2 linked regions of the Homo sapiens genome follow. The protein of the gene in region 1 purifies or fractionates together with the protein of each later gene. This does not show direct contact. Each region holds a gene or a part of one and is shown on either strand. Other genes may lie near its edges.

What was found. Proteins that work in one complex are often made in the same cells at the same time.
Region 2: the proteins of SNAP23 (region 1) and SCAMP1 purify together in Homo sapiens (affinity purification with western blotting, with the first as the bait; one study listed by BioGRID). This does not show direct contact.

What each region holds. Positions count from the first base shown.
Region 1 is NC_000015.10:42,516,011-42,519,826, forward strand, and holds part of SNAP23 (synaptosomal-associated protein 23), read left to right. Parts: intron 1-3,816. UniProt on the Homo sapiens protein: Essential component of the high affinity receptor for the general membrane fusion machinery and an important regulator of transport vesicle docking and fusion.
Region 2 is NC_000005.10:78,412,579-78,416,394, reverse strand, and holds part of SCAMP1 (secretory carrier-associated membrane protein 1), read right to left. Parts: intron 876-3,816; coding exon 777-875; intron 1-776. UniProt on the Homo sapiens protein: Functions in post-Golgi recycling pathways. Acts as a recycling carrier to the cell surface.

The DNA.
Region 1 (3,816 bases):
GAGCTGTGTGACTCATGTAGATGAGAAGTGGAAAGTAAGATATAAGTAGGTAGTAGAGGAACTTGAATGCCAAACTAAGGAGTTGACAGATTGGAGTGGAGTATAAAAAGAAACGACAGTATCTGGAGATTGAATGACTGTACTCACTGCTGAAAGTTTTGTTTTGTTTTTTTTCTGAGACAGGGTCTCTGTTACTGAGGCTGGAATGCAGTGGCGTGATCACAGCTCACTGCAGCCTCTCTTTCCTGGGCACAAGAGATCCTCCCACCTTGGCCTCCCAAAGTGCTAGGATTACAGGCATGAGCCACTGCACACAGCCAAAGTATCCTTTTTTTTTTGAGACGGAGTCTCACTCTGTTACCAGGCTGGAATGCAGTGGCGCAGTCTCAGCTCACTGCAACCTCCGTCTCCTGGGTTCAAGTGATTTCTCCTGCCTCAGCCTCCCGAGTAGCTGGGACTACAGGCGCATGCCACCACACCCAGCTAATTTTTGTATTTTTAGTAGAGACGGGGTTTCACTATGTTGGCCAGGATGGTCTTGATCTCTTGACCTCATGATCCGCCCGCCTTAACCTCCTCAAGTGCTGGGATTACAGGTGTGAGCCACCACACCCGGCCTCAATGTATTCATTTTTAAAGAGGTTCTTAGACATTAATATTTCATCCAGTTCTCAGCTGGTCTTGTAAACCAACAGCGGTTATATTTTTATATTTTCAGTAAGTGTTTTTATGAAACAACATTTTTATGCCATTTCTGTTATAGAAAGTAGAGATTAATTGCTTGTCAGTCAACTTTAGTGTTTGTTTTGGCCATGAGGAAAGGTTTGACAGTGTTCTTCCTAGTCTTATCCATTGGCTTCCTATTCTAACACAAGTCTGTTGACCTGTTTACACCTTGGTTGACCAACTGAAAGTTCTGTATTTTTTGAGACGGAGTCTCGCTCTGTCACCCAGGCTGGAGTGCAGTGGTGTGATCTCGGCTCACTGCAACTTCCACCTCACGGGTTCAAGTGATTCTCCTGCCTCAGCCTCCCAAGTAGCTGGGATTACAAATATGTGCCACCATACTCAGCTAATTTTTATATTTTTAGTAGAGACAGGGTTTCGCCGTGTTGGCCAGGCTGGTCTCAAACTCCTAACCTCAGGTGATCTGCCCGCCTCTGCCTCCCAAAGTGCGGGGATTACATGCGTGAGCCACTGCTCCCGGCCAAAAGTTCATATTTTAATAACTATGACTTGTCAATCAGAGTTTAGCAGATTACTTTAAGCAAACAAGTTAAAATGTACAGATTATTTGATACAAACTCTTAGCTATGTTTTACAAACATAATTGTACCTTTCTCTTGTGTTCCATGTACCTTCTTGGAAGAGTACAGAAGAGAGGAAGTAGATGAATTTTCTTGAGATCAGATGTTAGGAGAACAAGGAGAAAGAAGTCTCCCCTAAAATCTTAGAGGAAGATCAGCTCTAAGTCACGTGTTGATAAATAGGAAGAGCACTGAATTAGACCTAAGATGGTCTAATATCATAGAAAGTGGGAAATGCAGCTACAGAGTATTAATTTTATGTCTCTTTGTGTATCCCAGCCAAGCATAGGCAAGCTTTTCTTGAAGACTGGTGGGAAACAAGGTAGGGTATGGTCCTGAATCAGCATTCTTCAGCCTCTAACCTCAGTAGAACCCTTTCTCAGTGGATCAAGAGAAGGCATTACTTTTTTAGAGATGGCCTCTCCCTCTGTCTCCCGGGCTTGAATGCAGTGGTGCCACCATAGCTCACTGTAGCCTCAAACATCTGGGCTCAAGCAATCCACCCACATCAGCCTCCCAAGTAGCTAGGATTACAGGTGTGTGCCACCATGCCCAGCTAATTTTTGAAATTTTTTGTAGAGACAGGGGTCTTGCTATGTTGCCCAGGCTTGTATCAAACTCCTGGCCTCAAGAAATCCTCCCACTTCAGCCTCCCAAAGCACTGGGATTACAGGCTTAAGCCACTGCACCCAACTGGCACTTCTTTCTTTTTTTTTTTCTGGCACTTCTTGAGAGATGGAATCAAGGGGCTGCTGTAACAAAACAGTTCCCTTAAGAGAAGAAAGTATTATCTCAGTTAAAGATGTCTGATTGTAATTGTCTTTCTTCCACCTATTTCTTTCTTACACCATTGAGACCTTGGCCAGTATGATATCTCTTATCCTCAGCTCTGTTCCTATCATTCTTGCCTGTGTCTTGATCTTTCTAATCTGCTAGTCTGTGTTTCAGTTAGGCTCGTCACATGAATAACCATAACATGAGCTTCTTAAAGGTAGACATGAGATCTTAGTCCTATGTGTAAGGCCTAGTCTTCATACCAGCAGTAGCAGTAACAACCCAGGTCAGGTCCAGAGTTCCTTATTTGCCATTTGGAAATACTTTTTCTTTTCTTTCTCTTTTTTTTTTTTTTTTTTCTCGAGACAGGGTCTCGCTCTGTTACCCAGGCTGGAGTGCAGTGGCAGTCATGGCTCACTGCAGCCTCAACCTATCCTCCAGCGTCAGCCTCCTGAGTAGCTGGGATTACAGGCACATGCCACCACACCCAGCTAATTTTGTATCTTTTGTAGAGACAAGGTTTCACCATGTTGGCCAGGCTGGTCTTGAACCCTTGGGCTCAGGCAGTCTACCCACCTTGGCCTCCAGAAGTGCTGGGATTGCAGGCATGAGCCATTAAGCCCTGCTGGCCATTCAGAAATCTAAAAAACTCCTAAAGTTTTGTTTTATTTTTGCTGTAATGGTGCCACAACTCATTAGGGTATAAAATGTAACCTGAACTGAAGCTATGTTTAGTCTTTATTACTTGCTGTAGATATTAATTGGTTTCACTACAGAAATACTCTTTTTGAGTCAGGGTCTCACTCTGTCACCCAGGTTGGAGTACAGTGGTATGATCTTGGCTCACTGCAGCCTCGACCTCCTAGGTTCAAGTGATCCCCCCACCTCAGCCTCATGAGTAGCTGGGACTACAGGTGCATGTCACCATGCCTGGTTTGTTTTTAAAAACTTTTGTTTCTTCTTCTTTTTTTTTTTTTTTTTGAGACGGAGTCTCACTCTGTTGCCCAGGCTAGAGTGCAGTGATGCAGTCTCAGTTCACTGCAACCTCTGCCTCCTAGGTTCAACCGATTCTCCTGCCTCAGCCTCCCAAATAGCTGGGATTACTGGTGCCTGCCACCACGCCCAGCTAATTTTTGTATTTTTAGTAGAGATGGGGGTTCACCATGTTGGCCAGGCTGGTCTTGAACTCCTGACCTCAGGTGATCCGCCTGCCTCGGCCTCCCAAAGTGCTGGGATTACAAGCATGAGCCACCATGCCTGACCCTGTTTCTTTTCTTTTCTTTTTCTTTTTTTTTTTTGAGACAGAGTTTTACGTTGTCACCCAGACTGGAGTGCAGTGGTACAATCTCGGCTCACTGCAACCTTCGCTTCCTGGGTTCAATCGATTCTCATGCCTCAACCACCCAAGTAGCTGGGATTAGAGGCATGCACCAACACCTTGCTAACTAATGTATTTTTAGTAGAGACGGGGTTTTGCCATGTTGGCCAGGATGGTCTTGAACTCCTGACCTCAAGTGATCCACCCACCTCGGCCTCCCAACGTGCTGGGGTTACAGGCATGAGCCACCGTACCTGGACTTTAAAAAGTTTTTGTAGAGATGAGTTCTCACTATGTTGCTCAGGCTGGTCTCAAACTCCTAAGCTCAAGCAATCCTCCCACATTGGCCTCCCAAAGTGCTGGTATTACAGAAATGAGCCACCACACGCAACGTCACTACAGAAATATTAATGTATT
Region 2 (3,816 bases), on another chromosome or scaffold:
ACAGAAAATATTATGAGGATATTTGGTCCATTTGGTCTTTGGGTTCCAGAAACTCTCAGTGGGAATGTTGGGTCCATTAGGAGAGGAAAACTTCTCTTAGTAAAAGTAGTCACAATCTTTAGGTAATCTGGAAAATGAAATTAAGATGACCTCTATGCCTAAATGAGTGAAGAACAGAGGCAATGGGAACAGTTGAGGAAAATGAACAATAGAAAAAAGGGCAACTGAATTGGCTCCTATTAATCAGATTAAATGATATATAAGGCCACCAATGCAAGAATATTTTCTAATATCTTAAATGTTATAGGAGAATGAGGTCAAAAGATGTGATTAAGAAATTCTTTATAACTCAATTTGCCCTTACATGCTATCAGGCATCTTATTAATCTCCTTTCTTCTCAGATTTTTGCCATCTTCTACCTCCTAACACTGTTATTTTACCATTGCAACGCTCTCCCAATAATATCTATTATTCCATCATTTTTACCTTAATGGTAGTGTGCATTAAAAAGTGGGACCAAAGGCAATAAAAATTTATCCACTGAGATGATACATAAATTCAATAATTCCTAATAATGGAATAAAGCAAATGGTATAAGCTGACAAAAAGAGGAATGAGTATTTGAAGGGTGACAAGACAGCAAATCCAGACTTGAAAGTGAGTTAAAAATTAAGCAACAGAAATGTAACCATATAAAGATTTATTTTGCTCTGAAAGCAAATGTTATTGATATTATAATGGCCAATATGAATTTATACAACTAACATGAACTAACCTTTGCAATCTGTGTATAAGCTGGATGTTCCTCTGTTGGTTTCATTATTGCTGGTTGTGTATTGGGTACATTAGGCATCTTCACACCGCCTGGTGGAGGCTAGGAGGATTAAGAGAAGGAAAATTATGTAACACAGAGATCCAACTTTAACTTCTTTCAAAAAGTATAACACCAATAAAATGAAAAATCCCAAAATCTGCATCTCTTCATTCCCTGCTCTCTCATAGTCAAGTGTGTGGCAAAGAGCTGCTTAAATTCTCCATCTCCATTTTCTCCAACTCATTCATTTTTCAACTCTACAATCAGACTGCTACTTATAACACTATATGACAAACACTCTCCTCCAGGATACCGTATGTTAATAGAGGCCAGGCATGGTGGCTCATGCCTGTAATCCCAGCACTTTGGGAGGCCAAGGCGTGTAGATCACCTAAGTCAGGAGTTCAAGACCAGCCTGGCCAATATGGTGAAACCCCGTCTCTACTAAAAATACAAAAATTAGCCGGGTGTGGTGGCGGGCACCTGTAATCCCAGCTACTTGGGAGGCTGAGGCAGGAGAATCACTTGAACCGGGGAGGTGGAGGCTGCAGTGAGCCAAGACTGTACCACTGCACTCCAGCCTGGGCAACAGAGCAAGACTCCATCTCAAAAAAAAAAAAAAAGAACTTTTGAGTTTAATAGTAAAATACAGATAGAACCAGACAAAAGAACTACACCAAGGTTTACTGCCAACTCTTCCCTCTTGAGAAAGCTACATGCCAGTGCTCTGAAGAGTATACAGGAAAGTTCTTGGTAGAACCCCACTAAATTTAAAAGAGTAAAAGGGAAGGCGTAAGGAGAGAGAAAATAAATTACCCAACTTCCACTTTGCCAGTGAGGATCAGTAGTGTCTGAAAGCTGCAAGATCAGGAAGTAGACATCTACAAGTCCATCAATGGGGGATTGGTTAAATTACTGTATATACATACAATGCAGCCATGAGAATAAATTAGCGATAGAAGAATGTCTTTTAAAATACTAAATAAAATAAAGCAAGCTGGCCGGGCGCAGTGTCCTATGCTTGTGATCCCAGTACTTTGGGAGGCCGAGGCAAGTGGATCACAAAGTCAGGAGTTCGAGACCAGCCTGGCCAATATGGTGAAACCCCATCTCTCCTAAAAATACAAAAATTAGCCAGGTGTGGCGGCGGGCGCCTGCAGTCCCAGCTACTTGGGAGGCTGAGGCAGAAGAATCGCTTGAACCCGGGAGGCGGAGGTTGCAGTGAGCTAAGATCGCACCACTGCACTCCAGCCTGGGAGACAGAGCAAGACTCCATCTCAAAAAATAATAATAATAATAAAATAAAAATTAAATTAAAAAATAAAGCAAGCTACAGAACAGTCTGTATATGACCTTTTTTTCAACAGACACAGATTTATACATGCCCCCATAAAATATCTGGGAAGTCTCGGCCACCTGATATCAGACGGACTTGCACCTGTTGTTTTATATGCCTCTGTATTATTTGCTTCCCTCGACACATGCACCATATACTACTTTAATAAAAATATATTTTTAAAGTACTCTTTAGAATGACCATAAGAAAAAAACAAAAAACAAGGATGGGAACATGAAAAGAACAATAGAAGCAAAAACAGTAACAGAAAAGAAAAGAAGAAAGGAAAGAAAGAGAAGAGGGAGGGAAGGGGGAGGTCATAAATAAGAAAAATATAAAAAAGAAAGAAGCTGCACAAGGACGTTCAAGGATCTTAAGAACTATTAAAACCAGAAGACACCACCAATATATAGCAGGATTTTACTCTGACACAGCTAACAGCAGCCCTGAAAAGGAAGCCACGCATAACCAAAGATATAACTGTAGTTCAGCTGATTCTAAAATGCATATACAAAAGGCAAGAACCGGCTGGGTGCAGAGGCTCACACTTGTAATCCCAGCACTTTGGGAGGCCAAGGTGGGCAGATCGCCTGAGCTCAGGAGTTCGAGACCACCCTGGGCAACATGGTGAAACCTCGTCTCTACTAAAATACAAAAAATTAGACAGGCATGGTGGTGTGCACCTGTAGTCCCAGCTACTGGAGAGGCTGAGGCATGAGAATCGCTTGAGCCTGGGAGGCAGAGGTTGCAGTGAGCCCAGATTATGCCACTGCACTCCAACTTGGGCTACAGAGTGAGAGTCTATCTCAAAAAAAAAAAAAAGGCAGGAACTAAAAACAGGTCAAACCATTTTGAAGAAAAACAAAGTAGGAAGACCTATGATATCAAGGCTTATTATAGAACCACAGTAATTAAGAGTGTAATACAGATGCAAGGACAGAGAAGTGTACCAATAAACAAAACAGACACAGAAACAAACCCACACAAATGCAGAAACTTGATATCTAACAGAGGTGTCACTACAAAACAGTGAAGAAACAATGTGTTAATCAATAAACGGTGCCTGGATAACTGGTTACTCATATAGGAAAAAAAAACATTTCTTACTTCGCATCATATACAAAGATTAATTCGAGGTAAATTCATGATCTAAAACTGAAAAAGCAAAACTTAAACACTTTCAGGGAAAAATACATGTGAATATTTTTATGAATATTTCTTGAGCTTCTAGAATATGAACTCTAGAAATACTGTGTATTTTGTTTATGACCTATCCCAAGTACCCAAAATAGTCCCTGAAACAGTAGATGCTCAGTAAGTATCTGTCAAATTAAGAATGGAAAACACACACCACACAAAATTGACGAATTTAATTACACTGAAATTTACAAAAAGTAAAAAGTCAAATCATGGACTAGGAAAAGATAGTTGTAATGCATATAACAGAAAATTGCTACCCAGAATATATAAAGAATTGTTACAAATCCATGAAAATACAAACTAATCGAAAAACTAGCAAAAGATCTGAACAAGCAATAGAAAGAGGTCAATAAACATGTGAAAAGAGGTGTAACAGCACTAGTAATCAAGAAGTGCAAAAACAATCATATATCATTTCAAAACCATGAGATAGAAAAACAAACTCTGACAATACCAAAATTGGAA